2 separate regions of the Homo sapiens genome follow, and region 1 is linked to region 2. The links come from fine-mapping of genetic effects on gene expression. A gene starts in region 2. The other region holds a variant in brackets. All regions are shown on one strand. Distances are from middle to middle. Region 1 has its middle 35 kb from the start of GRAMD4. Region 2 holds the start of GRAMD4 (GRAM domain containing 4).

The links.
Region 1: its variant is fine-mapped to the expression of GRAMD4 in whole blood (TOPMed, PIP above 0.99).

What each region holds. Positions count from the first base shown.
Region 1 is chr22:46,580,921-46,589,235 of GRCh38, forward strand. It overlaps a transcript of GRAMD4 not described here. Among named protein-coding and RNA genes, the nearest start is that of GRAMD4, 35 kb to the right of the region's middle. RefSeq lists enhancers at 928-1,007, 1,726-1,825, 2,362-3,351, 3,352-4,339, 5,328-6,315 and silencers at 6,806-6,855, 7,206-7,255. The variant C/T (reference allele first, on the strand shown) is at 4,639.
Region 2 is chr22:46,616,704-46,625,018 of GRCh38, forward strand. It overlaps GRAMD4 (GRAM domain containing 4), which reads left to right and starts at 3,683. Exons shown (of 19, transcript NM_015124.5): 1 at 3,683-3,862. RefSeq lists enhancers at 1,715-2,482, 4,911-5,422.

The DNA of each region.
Region 1 (8,315 bases), 36 kb before region 2:
CGCGCCATTGCACTCCAGCCTGGGCAACAAGAGCGAAACTCCATCTCAAAAAAAAAAAAAAAAAGAAAGAAAGAAAAAAGAAAATGCGTGTTTCCCTAATTGGAGAAAGCCCTGTTGTTTTGCCTTTGGTATCTCGGCATGTGGCAGAGGCCTGGGCGGACACTTTGGGCTGGTAATTCGCCACTAATGACAGTCCCGTCTACAGGGCTACTGTTCTGATTGTTTGGTGTTTGAGTTATAACCTAGGGTTGTGATTATGTTTAAGCCCAGTGATTAAAGTCCCCTGTGGTTACACAGGAAAGGCAGGAAGTACCGGCCTATCAAAAACATTAATAATAGTAATAGAAATCACTCATTCTGCACAGCAGGCCTGCGCTGAGTGTTTCACACGAATTGTCTCAACCAAGTCTGCAGAGCACACAGCTTCACCCCATTTTACAGATGAGGAAACTGAGGCACCGGGAGGCAGTGCCACTTGCCTAAGTCCCCAGTTCGTTCCCGAGCAGAGCTGGGATTTGCACGTGGGTGGCTTTGCCCCCAAGGCTATGCTCATAAACATTGCAGCCTTTCTGCCTTCCTGATAACCCTCCTCTAAGGGGGGTTTTGTGAGAGAAATATCAGCAATAAACTCAAAGTCATGATGAGACTTCTCTTTTTGCTGTCAAATGTGCAGTAAATAGCAAGATTCGGACAGCATGTCCTGCTCAGGGCCAGACAGCCCTCTAAGCATGAGACATGATTTATTTTCGTACCAACTGGAGGTAGGTGCTCTTGTTAGCTGCATTTCACGCAGGAGGAAGCCCTGGCACAGAGCCACAGGTTGCTGCGTGGTAGAGGTGGGTTTGGACCAATGGGCTGTGCTTCTAACCTAAGCCCCATATGCACGGGGGTTGGGCGGAGAGCGTGCTTGATCTTGCTGCTGTGTGTTCTTGGGCAAGACACCTAACCTCTCTGGGCCTCAGTTTGGTCACCTGTAAACGAAGGCCTTGGCCTAGGGTATAGAAGCCAGAGCTTGAGAGCTGGCTCTGGCCTGAGATGGCCGCGTCTGCACCACCTCCCACAGGGAGGCCCAGGTGGGTGGAGAGGCCTGGCTGCCACTTCCCTAGAGGAAGCAGGTCTACTGAGGAGCAGTGCTGGGGCCTTGGCTGGGGCTGGGTGGGGCTGGGTGTGGAGGCCATGGGTGGTCGAGGAGTGAGGGCTTCTGGGATGCACTTTGCAGTGGCCGAGTCACTGCCCTCTGTGAAGTGAGGTCCAAGGAGGCAGAGCGTGGGGCTGCTGGGAAACCGTGAAGCTTTGTGCTTGGTGAATTGTTACTTGTCCCTGGGGAACAGGAGGGACAAGAGACTCTGCTTGGGACTCTGTGCCACCAAACTCCCGAGAAGCTGCAGTGGGAGAAGCTGAATGCTGGGCAGCGGGCGGTTAGGAGGCTCCAGGAAACGGCTCAGCCTCTCTTGGTGGGTTCCCCTGCCGGCCGTTCCTGGGACCTCTCTGCTCCACGTCCCCCCTCCAGGGAGGCCTCCCATGAGTGCCCCAGCTGTGCCTCTGCTGTCACTGCTCTCCTCTTCCTGAGGTTCTTGTTTGTCTACTGTTTACCACGCTTCCCTTCTAGAAGGTGGGCTCCTGAAGTTAGGGGTCTCTGCTCATGTCCAGCGACCTGGAGCGGCACCTCATTATGCCTGGTATCCTGGGACCCTGGCTCGGGTCTGAGCTGGGCTGTGGAGTTGGGTAGGGCCAGGAGCCAGGCTGGGAGTGAATTTGTTTGTTCCTCACTCTTGGTGTTGACCTTGGCCACCTGGCTGAGGTGTGTTTGTCAGCGTCTTTATTGAGGTGTAATTCACACATCATACAACACACTCATTGAAAGTGCACAGTTCACGGACTTCTAGTACATTCACCAAGTTGTGCAGCCATCACCACAATCGAAACCCAAACAGGAACCTGGGCCTTCTAGACACTTTAGGCACTCCCTGGACCCTTCCTCCCTGCCTGTGGTGACCACCTTTCTCTCTCTTTTGTCTTTTGAGATGGAGTTTCGCTCTTGTTGCCCAGGCTGGAGTGCAATGGTGCGATCTCAGCTCACCACAACCTCCGCCTCCCGGGTTCAAGCGATTCTCCTACCTCAGCCTCCCAAGTAGCTGGGGTGACAGACATGCACCACCATGCCTGGCTAATTTTGTATTTTTAGTAGAGATGGAGTTTCACCATGTTGGTCAGGCTGGTCTCGAATTCCTGACCTTAGGTGATCCATTCGCTTCGGTCTCTCAAAGTGCTGGGATTACAGGTGTGAGCCACCACACCCAGCCAACTCTATTTTTAAAAAACTGTTTTAGATTTATAGAGAAATTGCAGAGATAATACAGAGTTTCCCAATTATCCCTACCAACAGTTGCAGTTTGTCTGGTGATTAACATCTTACATTAGTATGATAGGTTTGTTACAATCCATGGACTAATATTGATACATTATCATTAGCCAAAGTACATAGTTTGTTCAGATTCATTAGGTTTTACCTAATGTCCTTTTTCTGTTCCAAGACTGCATCTAGGGTCCCAGATGACATCTAGCTGTCATGTCTCTCTAAGCTCCTCTTTGCTATGACAGCTTCTCAGACTTTTCTTAGTTTTGATAACTCTGACAGTCTTAAGAAATAGTAGGTGTATTGTGGGATCTCCATCCATTGGAATTTGTCTGTTTGAACAATTGGAATTCCTCTGTTGGAATTTGGATGTATTTCTCATGGTGCGACTGGGGCCCTGGCTTAGCGGGAGGAAGACCACAGGGGCATGGTGCCCTCTAACCACGTCACGCCAGGCGCATACCTTCGATGTGGCCCGCGGCTACTGGTGCTGACTTGGCCACCCACCTGAGATGTGTTTGTCAGGGGTCTTCACAGCAGTTCTTGTGTTTCCTCCTTCCAGTACTGTTGCCTTTGGGAGGAGGTCACTACACGCGGCCACACTTAAGGGCTGGGGAGTCACGCCTGCCTCCTTGAGGGCAGAGTGGCTGTGTCACTGATGTGGCCTTCTTCTTCAGGGGGGTCTGTCTCTTCTCCCCATTTATCAGTTTATGCAGCCGCTTACTTATCCATGTGGGTTCGTGGATACTCATTTAATCCTCTAGGTCAATGCGGAATGCCATTATTTTGTTTGCTCACTCGTTCCAGTGCTGGCCGTCGGGTTCCCTGGATGCACCCCTTCACGGTGGGTGGTGTGAGTCCTTCCTCACTTTCTGGCCCTGTGAGATGCTCCAGGCTCAGCTTGTCCATTCCCTGCCCAGGCCTAGAGTCAGCCCCTTCTGCAGGGAGCCCGGGTTCCTTTTGTTGGAGGGCAGAATCGGAAACCAAGATCCAGGTGGCGGGTACGCTCATCACTACCGGGGTGTCATTGCTTCTGGGCCCTCTTAGCTGACAGCAAGGAAATGCACGTGTGAGCTGACGCGCACATATGTACGTGTCTCTGCCTGTGTCCGCGTGTAGCCTCCTGTACCTGTATTGAGCAAAGTGTGAGTTCGCGCCGCTGATGAACTCTGATCCGTTTCCTGCATGGATCTTTCTCGTCTCCTTTCTTGCAGATCAATTCGTGTCTATTCAAGCAGCAGGAAGCCAGACTCCCACCGCTTGCCACACATCTACTTAATTGTTAGTACCGGTGTGTCTGCGTAGTGGGACTGGAGTTGTTAGTGGGACCCCCCGGGAAGCAGTTCCCGATCCCTTGGCTTCGAGCCCGGGCTCCCGGTATGCTGCCGCAGCATGGCTGGCTGGGGCTGGGGAGGGGCCGCCACCTCCCCAACATGATTCCACGACTTAGAGGGAAGAAGGGAGGGAGGCTGCAGGAGAACCAGGGACTTCCCTGCTGTGCTTAGTCAGCCCGGCCCCGCAGGGACGGGCACGGGCTTGGCGTTGCTTTGAGACGTGAAAGTGGGGCTGACTTAGAACGCATCCCAGAGTCCGGCCTCCTCGGGGAAGGAGGAGAAAGGCTGCCGGCGGGACGCTTTAGAGCTCAGACAAATCTCCGACTCCATCCTGGCCAGGTCTGTCCCCTCTCTGCCTCTGAACTTGCCACCCTGGCAGGGGACGGCCTTTGAAAAGATCTACAGAGCCGCATCTGCTGGGCTTTCTGTTAAGCATCTTTCATTCAGGAATGCGTCAGGCCCTTGCAGAAGTTTTGGGAAGAGAGAGAACCAGGTGGTCACTCCTCGTCTGCTGGTTTGTCGGCGGTGTTTTCCAGGCAGCATTTTGGGGATCTGAGTGGAGCCTGTCTTTTTTCTTTCTTTCTTTTTTTTTTTTTTTAGATGGAGTTTTGCTCTTGTTGCCCAGGCTGGAGTGCAATGGCGTGATCGTGGCTCATTGCAACCTCCACCTCCCAGGTTCAAGTGATTCTCCTGCCTCAGCCTCCCGAGTAGCTGGAACTACAGGCACGCACCACAACGCCCAGCTAATTTTGTATTTTTAGTAGAGTCGGAGTTTCTCCATGTTGGTCAGGCTGGTCTCAAACTCCTGACCTCAGGTGATCCGCCTGCCTCCACCTCCCAAAGTGCTGGGATTATAGGCGTGAGCCACCGCGCCCGGCTGCCTGTCTTGTTTTCTTGATGTTGGGTTAACTTCGGCCCTAGACCCAGGAAGCCTCCGGTCACAGCACC[C/T]CAAGGCCCTTGCCTGGAATACAAGACTTTCACCCTTGTGTTCGCGGTCCCATGAGGGGTGCTGGCCTCTTATCACCTGTCCGGGGCACCTGAATGATGCTTCTGCCTTCAGGGCACACATGGTGGAAGGGAGCTTGTGGGAGGTGGAAAGGTAAAGAGAGCCTGGTCTATGGGATGGGGAAGGGCCTGACCCTGCCAGGGAGGGAGCGACAAGGAGGGCTCCCTGGAGCGATGAGGGAGGGGCACAGGAGTTTATAGGACACAGGAGTGGGGATGGCTTGAGACCGGCCTCTCAGGTCAGCTTGTTAAAGGTCAGCCTCTGTGCAAGGCTCCTGGAGACCCAACCAGCATGTGCCTGCGGCTCCTCTGGGGCTAGGACTGAGGTTCAGCCACGTCTTGGGTGCAGTGGGATACCTGGCTCCTTTGTCTGCCCCCGAAGGCCCTTGTCTCTGTGCTATGGGGCTAGGCCCTCCCATGACCCCCACGTTTCCCCAACCCTATGGAGTGTGTCTAAGGAAGCAGGTGGAATTGGCCTGGCTCCCCCAGTCTGGGACCTAGAGCACAGCCCGGGGAGCCAGGGCTGCCCTCGCTGGGGATGCCAGCATTCTTGGGAATGCAGCTTAGGGGGTGGCCCACTCACCTGCCTATGCCCTTACCTGGGGCCAGCCTCCTGCCTTCCTGCTGACCGTGTCTCCTTCCTTGCCCTGGCTCCTCCCCACCGCCCCACGTGCCCCACCCCCATCCTCACTGGGCCCCACTGGCGCCTCCCTGCTTTCCAGGTTGAGATTGGTGGGCTGGCTCAGTCCGGTGCGATGGTCGGAGGCATTTGCCGGGTGATGCTGGCTCGGAGGGGCTCTGTCCCCTCCTCTGTCTGCCCTCCCCTCCCCAGCCCAGGGCTCCCTGGCTCCCCGGGCTCTGCTCTAGGCCCCAGACTGGGGGAGCCAGGCCAATTCCACCTGCTTCCTTAGACACACTCCATAGGGTTGGGGAAACGTGGGGGTCATGGGAGGGCCTAGCCCCATGACACAGAGACGAGGGCCTTCAGGGGGCAGACGAAGGAGCCAGGTATCCTACTGCACCCAGAGCTCTGGTGTGGCGGAATCGCTGGTGGGGTCTCAGCTTCTCAGGGCGACTGGCTGCTGTCCCTGCTGGGACATGAGTTGGGGGGAACCCCTACCTGTCTGCTGGGGAAAGCGGCCCTGGGGTGAGCCTGGCCTGAGCAGTGACAGCCTGCAGGGTCCTCTGTCTTCCTGCCCTGCAGCTGATGAGGAGGGAGCTGAGGCCCTGCAGCTCTGAGGGCACTTGGGACCTGGATGGGCAGAGGTAGAAAGGTGTGTGTAGACCTTGGCCCCTGGGTGGGGAGTTTGGCGTTTAAAAGTCTGAAGCAACACCCACACCCCGTCTGTGTCCCAGAACCCACCCTCTTACCCGGGAAGAACCGGACCGTAACTACCCTGTGATGCTGGACAAAGCCCGTGCTGATGGTCGCCTACTTCCTCGCATGCTTTCTCAGCCCACTCTGCGCCCAGTGGCTCTTGTTTGCCACAGAACCCTGATGAAGTAGATTATCCCCTGCCCTGGGGGAATGCTCAGCTGACAACAGGAGTGGACCCTGTGAGAGTGGAGGCCCCTGTGATCTGTGGAGCGTGTGTGCCCGCTGGGCTGTGATGAGCCAGTGATCTGGGGCTCCGGAGTAGAAGGTGACATTGTGTCCCCAGCCACTGCTGGACCCCAGCAAGGTGTGTGAATCATTTCACACATTCTCCACCCAAGAAGTGAAACTGTCAGGTTTAAGTGTGTGGGGGTGGGAAGGGGAAGTCTGTTCCAAAAGCCCAGCCGTCCGGAGTGACACTGGGCCATCAGCTCTGGGAGGCGGAGGCCGTTTGGGGTCCTGTTCCGGCTTCAGTGCCCAGGTTTGTGTCTTCTGCTTGCTTTCTGTAGCCCTTCTCTTCCAACTAGGGGGATAGTCAGGGTCTGACAAAGGCTTGAGGGGGAGGGCCTCCACCAGCAGCATACCTGGCAGGCAGCCCAGGCCGGGGCGGGGGGCCAGTGGGCTGGATGGGGGTCAGTGGGCAAGGCTCCGTCCTGTCCTGTCCTGTCCTGTCCTGTGGGAGAAGCCTAGGCAGGCACACTCAGCCAACCCCAGCTCAGGAGGGAGGGACCCAGAGGCACTGGCCCGAGGTAGGGTTGAAACAGGTGGAACTGACTGGTGGTCGTTGCTGGCCCCTGGAGCCTGACCTGCCTAACAGTGGAGGTGGCAGATGTTTGGTGGAGAGGAAGTGAAACAGGCGTGTGCGCCAGAAGCCCGGGCGTCGGGGTGGGGCCGCGGGAGGATGGTACAGGGCTCCTGATCCTCCCCGTCTGGGCAGACGCACTCACATCACAGGTTGGCAAAAGGCCTGAGGGTCCAGGGGGCCAGGGCCTGGTCAGGAGGGGCACAGGCGGGGAGGGAGTGGGTGGTGTCTACTTGGCTCTAGATGTCGGGTTTAGAGAGAGACTCTGGGACAGCCCCAGCCCTGGTGGAGCCCCATGGAGCCGCCTTCGGGGGCTCTGTCCCAGAGTCTCTCTCTAAACCGGACATCTAGAGCTGTGACTCAGGATAGGCAGGCCCTGGGGGGTCACCCCCAGCCACCCCATCTGCTTTGAGAACCTAGGAGCATGGGAGAAGCCAGGTAACCCCAGTGACTGCCCAGCGTCCCCCACAACCCGATGGATGAGGAGCCAGTAGGTCAGGAGGGGCAGAGCTGAGGTCAGCACACCTCCGTCCCTGTCTGGCTGTCCGTCTTCCATCCCTCCAGGCAGCACCACGCAAGGGCAGGGAGGTGGCAGGCCTGCTGAGCTCTGTGGATGTGGGGCAGACCCGGCTGGCTTGTTGGAGCACCCTCCCCGGGCGAGTGCTGTTCATATTGGTATCTGCGGAGTGGGTCAAACCACTACAGAGGGCAAGAGGGGAGCTGTGGCCTCTGGCCAGCCACGTTCTAAGCTTTTACAAGGCCCCACCCTGTCCCTCGCAGTCTTAGCCATCAGCTGCCTTTGGAGAATGAGCGATCTGAAGATGTTCCTGGCTGGGGGGCAGGGGTGGCCAGTGCTCCTGGAGCTGCGGGGTGCCCACCCTTTCGTCCGTCCTCCTTCCCCGGCCTGATCCAGGAGCCCCAGCACCGCCCTCTCCATCCCCGGGGTCCTTAGGCTTCCCTGACACAGGTCTCAGGAGGGCATGTGACACTGGCGTCGGTCCGGGCTGGGCAGAGCCTGGATGTGGCCCAGGCTGGGCTGGGCTGGAGCCGAAGCCTTTCTTCTCAGGTCCTGTCATAGCTGTGGGGCCTGGGGCTGGTGACCCAGCCTCTGCCAGCGTCTCCCCACCCCCTCCCACAGTAAGGTTGGTGACAGCAGAGTTCTCTTAAACATTTGAGATGTCCTGTGCTGGCCCGTGGCAGTGCAACCACAGCTCGTAACTGTGGCGCTGGGCAGAGGGCTGGGTACGCAGCAGGTGCTTCGTCAGTACTGATGGGAGAAGCAGGGACGGCAGGGGGCGGGGGGACCTGGATGGGCGACACTCCCCAGCCTGCTGGTGCTCCAGGGAGGACCTTTTCAGAGCTGGGAGACCCTGGCTCAGTGTCCTTGTCCCTCCAGTCGCTGCTGCCTTCCCGAAAGCCCTGGAGCCTTGTTAAAGAGGGCAG
Region 2 (8,315 bases):
GTAGGTTCCCCCGTGCGTGTAGGTTCCCCCGTGTGTGCAGGTTCCCCTGTGTGTGTGGCTTCCCCTGTGCGTGCAGGTTCCCCTGTGTGTAGGTTCCCCTGTGTGTGTAGGTTCCCCTGTGTGTACGTTCCCCTGTGTGTACGTTCCCCTGTGTGTAGGTTCCCCCGTGTGTAGGTTCCCCTGTGCGTGTAGTTTCCCCCGTGTGTAGGTTCCCCTGTGCGTATAGGTTCCCCTGTGCGTGTAGGTTCCCCCGTGTGTAGGTTCCCCTGTGCGTGTAGGTTCCCCCGTGTGTAGGTTCCCCTGTGCGTGTGGGTTCCCCCGTGTGTAGGTTCCCCTGTGCGTGTGGGTTCCCCCGTGTGTAGGTTCCCCTGTGCGTGTGGGTTCCCCCATGTGTAAGTTCCCCTGTCCGTGTAGGTTCCCCCATGTGTAGGTTCCCCTGTGTGTGTAGGTTCCCCCGTGTGTAGGTTCCCCTGTGCGTGTAGGTTCCTCCGTGTGTAGGTTCCCCTGTGCGTGTGGGTTCCCCCATGTGTAAGTTCCCCAGTGTGTAGGTTCCCCTGTGCTTGTGGGTTCCCCCGTGTGTAGGTTCTGCTGTGCATGTAGGTTCCCCTGTGTGTACGTTCCCCTAAGCATGTAGGTTCCCCCGTGTGTAGGTTCTCCCATGTGTGCGGGTTCCCCTGTGTGTGCAGCTTCCCCTGTGCTTGCAGGTTCCCCTGTGTGTAGGTTCCCCTGGGTGTAGGTTCCCCCCATACGTGTAGGTTCCCCTGTGTGTAGGTTCCCCTGTGCGTGTAGGTTTCCCCGTGTGTAGGTTCCCTTGTGCGTGTAGGTTCCCTTGTGCGTGTAGGTTCCTCTGTGTTGGGTCCTTAAACATTAACCAGCTCCTTCCTCCCCAGGCCTGGGCAGGATCCCAGCACACAGAGGAAGAAGCGGAGACTCACGTAGGCATCTCCTGGCCCTCCCAGTCTTCCTGACTGTCTCTCCTGGGCCACGCTGGCAAGTGGCCCCAGAGCGGGCCATACACCGTGCTGGCATTAGCACCCCAGGGTGTGCTTAGCCCTGGGCCCGCTCCCTGGCCCCCCTGGGTGGCTTCCCTGTCACAGTGCAGAAGGCTCAGCTCCCCACATGGGGTTCCAGCCTGACCCTCGTATGACTCAAGCCTGAAGATACTTTGCCAAGGGAAGGAATTCAGGTTTCTTCCTGGAGAAACATCCCAGATCACTGAAGGCTTGTAGTTAAAAGTTTTTGTGTATTCAGGGACGCTGTGCTTTGGCAGGGCCCAAGGCAGAGTCCATGGGTGTCCCTAGTCCATGGGTGTCCCTTTCTCTTGAGGCCTCTGGCAGAGGAAAGAAAGCTCAGCTGGTGGCTGCGGGCTCAGGCTGGCGGGGACCCCCCAGCCGTGGCATCTGGGCTGCCTTTGTGTGTCGCTCCCTCACTCTCTGAACAAGTGTTTGTCACTGCCCACCACGTGCCAAGCTCTGCAGAGGGAGACTCGGGTGCCTGCAGCTCGAGTCCACCTGAGCATCACCGGCAGAGCCGAGCCCCTGGAGACTTAGCCAGACACAGCCCCTGCCCCGGGGGAGCACCAGGCGGGTTCTAACCAAGCAGGACTGGAGGCACAAGCGCTAAACAAGGAAGCCATCAGGGCAATCCAAGGACCCCACGTCAAACCAAACAGGATGGTGGAATGACAGCGGGCGGCGCCTAGGGAATGGGGCAAATGAGCGACGTCCCGGAGCCAAACGTGTCGGGCCCTGCAGTGGGGACAGAGGCGGTGGTCGGAGGGTTGCAAAGGGGGTCGGCAGAGCTGCAGCCAAGCCTAGATGAGCCAGAGCTGATGAGGGTGTCGGGGGAGCAGCCGTGTTGACCCGGGTGCGTGGAAGCCCCTGGAGAACTTTGGCAGGGGCGCTGCAGAGGCTGATTTTGCCTTTGAAGGCCTCACCATGCTTGCCATGTGGAGAAGGCTTCGGGAGGCACGCGGCTGCCTGGACCAGGCTGGGGTGGTGGGGAGAGGGGAGGCACGCGGCTGCCTGGACCAGGCTGGGGTCGTGGGGAGAGGTGGACAGATGTGCAGCCCCGTCTGGAGGCGTGCGGCCGGCGTGCGCTGCAGGTTGGCAGTGGAGTGAGGAACGGGGCTATCAAGGGCTCTTGAGGGTTTCACCCAGACAGCTGGTGGACACGGTGCCATCCAGTCAGAGTGCCCCTTGAGACCCGAGTCTGTGCCAGGCGTGGCATAGTTGAGATACTGGTGAGCTGTCCGGCTTGGAGCCTGCAGGGAGGCCAGGTCAGGGGGCAGGGTTGAGAGCAGCCAAACACCCGGATACGGACATCAGCATTTGAGGCCGCCTGACTGTGCCCAGCTGGCAGGACTGAGGCCTGAATCCAGGGAGGGGATGAAACTCCTGGACAAGCCTTGAGTTTGGGGCAGCACACATGTCATCAGTTGTGAGCCGACCTCTTGAGGCTGATGTTGGAACAATAGTGGCCAAGGTCGGGCACGGGCTGGAAGGGCAGGATCTGCAGTCTCAGGACCCCAGAGGGCCCAGGGAGCTGTGTGTGTGCTGGGTCCTTGGGCCTCTTTGCATCAGGAGTTAGGGAGGTGCAAGTATGTGGCTGTAAGCATGGGGACATTGGGGTGGATGTTTTTGTTTTGTTCTTAGAGACAAGGTCTGGCCCTCACCCAGGCTGGAGTGCAGTGGTACGATCGTGGTTCACCGCAGCCTCAAACTCCCAGGTTCCCAGGCGATCCTCCTGCCTCAACCTTCTGAGCAACTGGGACTGTAGGCACGTACCACCACGCTGGCTCATGTTCTTATTTCACTTTCTGTGTCACTGCATTGCCCACCTCAGCCTCTCAAAGTGCTGGGATTACAGGCCTGAGCCCTGGTGCCTGGCTGGCGATGGGGTATTGGTAGAACCAGGCCTTCTTTGCTGGCCGCCCCCGGTCCTCCTGTTCACTCTGCAAAGCCCTGGAGTCTGCCAGCTGCCCCATCCTCACGTCCTCTTCAGCTGCCCAGGTTGGCTGTCCAGCTGCTGGTCTAACCTCCATCCAGGCCTTTCTGACAGTGAGGTTTAGGGGCTACCTTCCCTAGAGGACTGAGACTTGGAGGAGGGCCAGGTGGGGGCTGGGGCCCACTGCAGTGGGGGTGGGGGAGGTGTGTCTGTGTCGCTCAACATCTGCGAGTCCCCCAGGGACATTGCTTAGGAGGGCTGGCGGCTGTGGGAAAGCGGATGCTGTTTATCCCAGGATCAGCAGGAGAGCCGCCAGATAATAAGGGGATGAAGGGCGTGCCAGCAGCCGGGCCCTGATGTGGAGGTCAGCTGTGATCCAGGGACCCAGAACTCGGAGAGGAACTTTAGCAGGGGAGATGGTGTGAAGGAGACACGGCTCAGGGCAAGCGCCAGAGACCAGGAACCACTTTTTTTTTTTTAAATCTTGGGCTGGGGAAGGGGAAATAAAGTCCTTTGCGGTTTCTGAGTCCAGGGTTCCCTAGACACTGTTGCCTTTGTGTGTCCAGAAGCAATTCAGCGGTTTCCAGAGCAGCATGCTTTTGTGTTCCAGGGCTGGCTGGCCCAATTCCGTCCTGCTTGCAGAGAGGGCCTGGAGCCTGGCCGGGCGCCGCCCTGAGCCTGGGGGATCCTGGGAGAACCTGGACAGCCGTGGTGAGCCCTGCTGCCCTGCTCTGGTGCACAGGACTGGAGTCCTCCAGGCTCCAGGGCAGCAGACACCACCCTCTCCGTGCCTGCTGGTGTTGGGCGGCTTGGAGGCTATGGTTCCTGGGTCCTCGTAGCACATCCTGGTTCTGGGCCAGGACCTGAAGGAGCCACAGTGAAAGAGTGTTTCTGGATGTATCTGAGACAGACGGAGGTAGGGGGCAGGGGGCAGGGGGCAGGGGGACATGGTAGGGCCCATCTGAGTGGAAGCCCCAGCCTTGGGAAAAGCTGCTACTCTCTGGGGCAGTGGTCCCAGCTACCACGTGCTCTTCTGGAGCCATCTTGATCTTGAAAGGCAGGCTCCCTCCCAAGGCCGGGTGCAGGCCAGACCCCACCGGTAAAGCACCTGCGCAGCCCGGGGCCAGGGGTCCAGTGAGGAAGGGTGGAGGCCTCCTGAGAACCTGGCCTGGTCAGGAGGGCCGGCAAGAGGAGGAGCCTCCCAGGAAGCCCCTCAGAACCTGACAGGACGAGAGGAAGGGAGGCCGATCTGAGAGGGAGGGAGGCCCATCCGAGAGGGAGGAGGCCGATCTGAGAGGGCCGCATGGCTCGGAGTTGCAGGGGCCCTGGGCTGCCAGGGGTGGGCCTGTAGGTGCAGGTGGAGGGGCTGGTCCTGGGGAGAGCGGCTGGGCTGCAGGCTGAGGAGCTGGGCTTCCTCCAGGGACCGTGGAGGGGGTGGGGATGGGCAGCTAGAAGTGGGGAGGGCAGGGGCCGTCTGGTTGGGGATGCGCGGCTGCAGCACGCAGGACGGAAGGTGCAGGTGAGACGCAGGTGGGCGGTGTCGGGAGACCCGGGTCTGGCCTGAGGTGCAGCCTGGAGCTATGCTCAGTGTGTAGACGGGCCTTGGTTCCTGCATCTGTAAGTTGGGCGTGTGCTGGGTAATAGTGTCCTCCCCCAAAATTCATGTCCACCTCGTACCTGTGGACCCGACCTTACTTGGAAATGGCTCTTTGCAGATGTCACTGAGATGAAGTCACCCTGGTGTACAGTGGAGCACTCTTCAGTGCAGTGCGGGGGCTGCCCATGTGGCCGTGGAGGGCACCCCTACCCCGGTGCAGGCGCAGGCTGGAGGCGTAGCCCGGGCCCATCCCTGGCGGTGTGTCGCGGAGGGCACCCCTACCCCGGTGCAGGCGCAGGCTGGAGGCGTAGCCCGGGCCCATCCCTGGCGGTGTGTCGCGGAGGGCACCCCTACCCCGGTGCAGGCGCAGGCTGGAGGCGTAGCCCGGGCCCATCCCTGGCAGTGTGTCGCGGAGGGCACCCCTACCCCGGTGCAGGCACAGGCTGGAGGCGTAGCCCGGGCCCGTCCCTGGCGCTGTGTCGCGGAGGGCACCCCTACCCCGGTGCAGGCGCAGGCTGGAAGTGTAGCCCGGGCCCATCCCTGGTGGTGAAGGCTGGAAGGTCCATCCCTGGCAGTGTGTGGTGACATGTGTCGTGACATGGAGTTTGATTCTTAACTGACCGAAGCTTGAAAAGTCTGTCTTTTTGATGGACCCAGGGAGTTGGGTGAGGAGGGTGGTGGAGTCAGTGGGGCTGAGAGCAGGGTCGTCTAGGACCCTGATGTGTGGACGCCCTCCCCAAGGGCCGCTGTGAACCATCCAGCAGGATGACCCTGGGTTTGGGGCTGAGCCGGTGGCTGGGAGAGCAGACTGAGGAGTAGCTGGACACTGGCGGGGCACGCATTGCATTCTGATGGTGACAGGCGGGACACTCAGGGCCTTTGTCCCCTCTCTCATTGCCTCATTTGCTTGCCTGAGGTGATTGGGAAGGCAGCCCTGGCCTCGGAATTACAGCCTCCCAGACAAGGGGGCTGTCCTCTGCCCAGAGCCCTGCAGGCAGCCAAGAGTTCTGTGCGTGTCCAAGCGTGTCCCCTGCTTTCCTTGGGTGGAGGCCAGCTCGGTGCCCTACACAGGGCCTGCAGGCCCCAGCGCCCGGGTCATCCCCTCCGCTTCCCTCTCAGCTGCCGCAACCAGGAGGACTCGCCGGGTTTTTGAAAATGGAAGGAAGTAGGTTTTACATTGCTACACTTCCCCTAGCCCGTTCATCCTTCCTTTTTAAACATTAAAAAGCAGTAAAAATGGTGGTTACCGGGGGCTTGGGGAGGGCATGGGAGTTCCTATTCAGTGAGCAGAGTTTCAGTTAGACAAGACGAGTCCGGAGGCAGCCGCTCAGCATCACAGATGTAATTTATGCCACGGAGCTGCACGCTAAAAACTGGTGAAGTTGGGCTGAGCACGGCGGCTCACGCCTGTAATCCCAGCACTTTGGGAGGCCGAGGCGGGTGGATCACGAGGTCAGGAGATTGAGACCATCCTGGCTAACATGGCGAAACTCCGTCTCTACTAAAAATACAAAAAATTAGCTGGTGTGGTGGCGGGTGCCTGTAGTCCCAGCTACTCGGGAGGCTGAGGCAGGAGAATGGCGTGAACCCAGGAGGCGGATCTTGCAGTGAGCCGAGATCACGCCACTGCACTCCAGCCTGGGCGACAGAGCAAGACTCCATCTCTAAAAAAAAAAAAAAAAAAACTGATGAAATTGGTAATATTTATATTATGTGTGTTTTACCGTAATTAAAAAATATTGTGGGAAAAGAAGTAATAGGGAGGCATTTTAGGAGATTTGGAGAGAGAATTGTTAACGACCACCGTAAGCCCATACTCCCGACGTCTGGCCCCATAGCGCCCGAGTCTCTTCACGCACCTGTTTGCCATAACGACAGTCACAGGAAGGTCCCGGTTTTAGTTGCCTTCATCCCTTTACAAGGACGGGGTCCTGTGTGGGTCCACCAGGGTGCTCCAGGACCCCCTGCCCTGCTGGTCTTGATGGATGGTGTGTGACGTGTTTCCCCCCACCAGGCCTCCACTTCTTGAGCTTGGTCCTAGGGTCCTGGTACTGAGTTGTGGGGTGGCCGGTTGAGGGGGCGTCTGTGTGCTTGCTCTGCCGCATTCCGCAGCCCGGGTTAGCTTTAGTTTCCTTTCTTTATTTTATTTTATTTTTTTTGACACAGAGTCTCACGCTGCCCCCCAGGCTGCAGTGCAGTGGTGCAGTCTCGGCTCATTGCAAGCTCCGCCTCCCGGGTTCATGCCATTCTCCTGCCTCAGCCTCCTGAGTAGCTGGGACGCTTGGACTACAGGTGCCCGCCACCTTGCCTGGCTGACTTTTTTGTATTTTTAGTAGAGATGCAGTTTCACCGTGTTAGCCAGGATGGTCTCGATGTCCTGACCTCGTGATCCGCCCGCCCCGGCCTCCCAAAGTGCTGAGATTACAGGCATGAGCCACCATGCCCGGCCTAGTTTCCTTTCTAGTGAGCTTGAAGGTTTTCGCGTATTAGGAAGTGGTCTTGTCATTTTTGCTACATTGACTACATTGTCAAGCTGCCTTTTTTTTTTTTTTTTAAACAGAGTCTTGCTCTGTTGCCCAGGCTGGAGTGCAGTGGCGTGATCTCGGCTCACTGCAACCTCCACCTCCCGGGTTCAAGCAATTCTCCTGCCTCACTCTTCCAAGTAGCTGGGATTGTAGGCGCACATCACCTCGCCCAGCTAATTTTTGTATTTTAAGCAGAGATGGAGGTTCGCCATGTTGACCAGGCTGGTCTCAGACTCCTGACCTCAAGTGATCCACTCACCTCGGCCTCACAAAATGCTGGGATTACAGGTGCCAGCCACCGCACCTGGCCTAGTCAAGTTGTCTTGTAACATGGATATTAATCCTTCATGTATCATATTTGTTACCTGTATTCCTTGTTTTATAGCGTATTTTGACATTTTTTACTTTCTTTTTACAAATGAGAGCTTTTTACTTTTGCCTGGTGGCCTGTTAGACATTTTTACTTAGTGGCTTTTTTTTTTTCAGTCCCTTAATATAGACTCTTCCATCTTCTTCTCTCTAGGGATTTCATAGCTACTAAGTTCCCTCTTCCTTTTTTTTTTTTTTTTTTTTTTTTTCTGAGACGGAGTCTCACTGCCCAGGCTGGAGTGCAATAGTGTGATCTTGGCTCACTGCAAGCTCCGCCTCCCGGGTTCAAGCAATTCCTCTGCCTCCGTCTCCTGAGTAGCTGGGACTACAGGTGCCCGCCACCACACCCAGCTAATTTTTGTATTTTTAGTAGAGACAGGGTTTCACCATGTTGGCCAGATGGTCTCGAACTCCTGCCCTCGTGATCCGCCTACCTTGGCCTCCCAAAGTGCTGGGATTACAGGCGTGAACCACTGCTCCCAGCTGTTCTCTTTTCTTTTAAGGTTTGTGTGTTTTTAAATTGACTGAACCTTTAGTCCCTCTGCAATTTGTAGCTCCTATATGGGAAGCTTTTCCAAATGGCTGGCTCATGCTCCCTCAGCCTATGAGCAGCAGTTGCTACCTCCCCATCACCCACATCCCCCTCCTGGGGTCCTCCCAGCTTCCAGGGGATGCTGGGCATCAGGACAGCTCCCCGTAGAGCCTGTGTCCTGTGGGATTTTTTTTTTTTTTTTTTTTGAGACAGAGTCTCGCTCTGTCACCCAGGCTGGAGTGCAGTGGCGGGATCTCAGCTCACTTCAAGCTCCGCCTCCTGGGTTCATGCCATTCTCCTGCCTCAGCCTCCTGAGTAGCTGGGACTACAGGCGCCCACCACCACG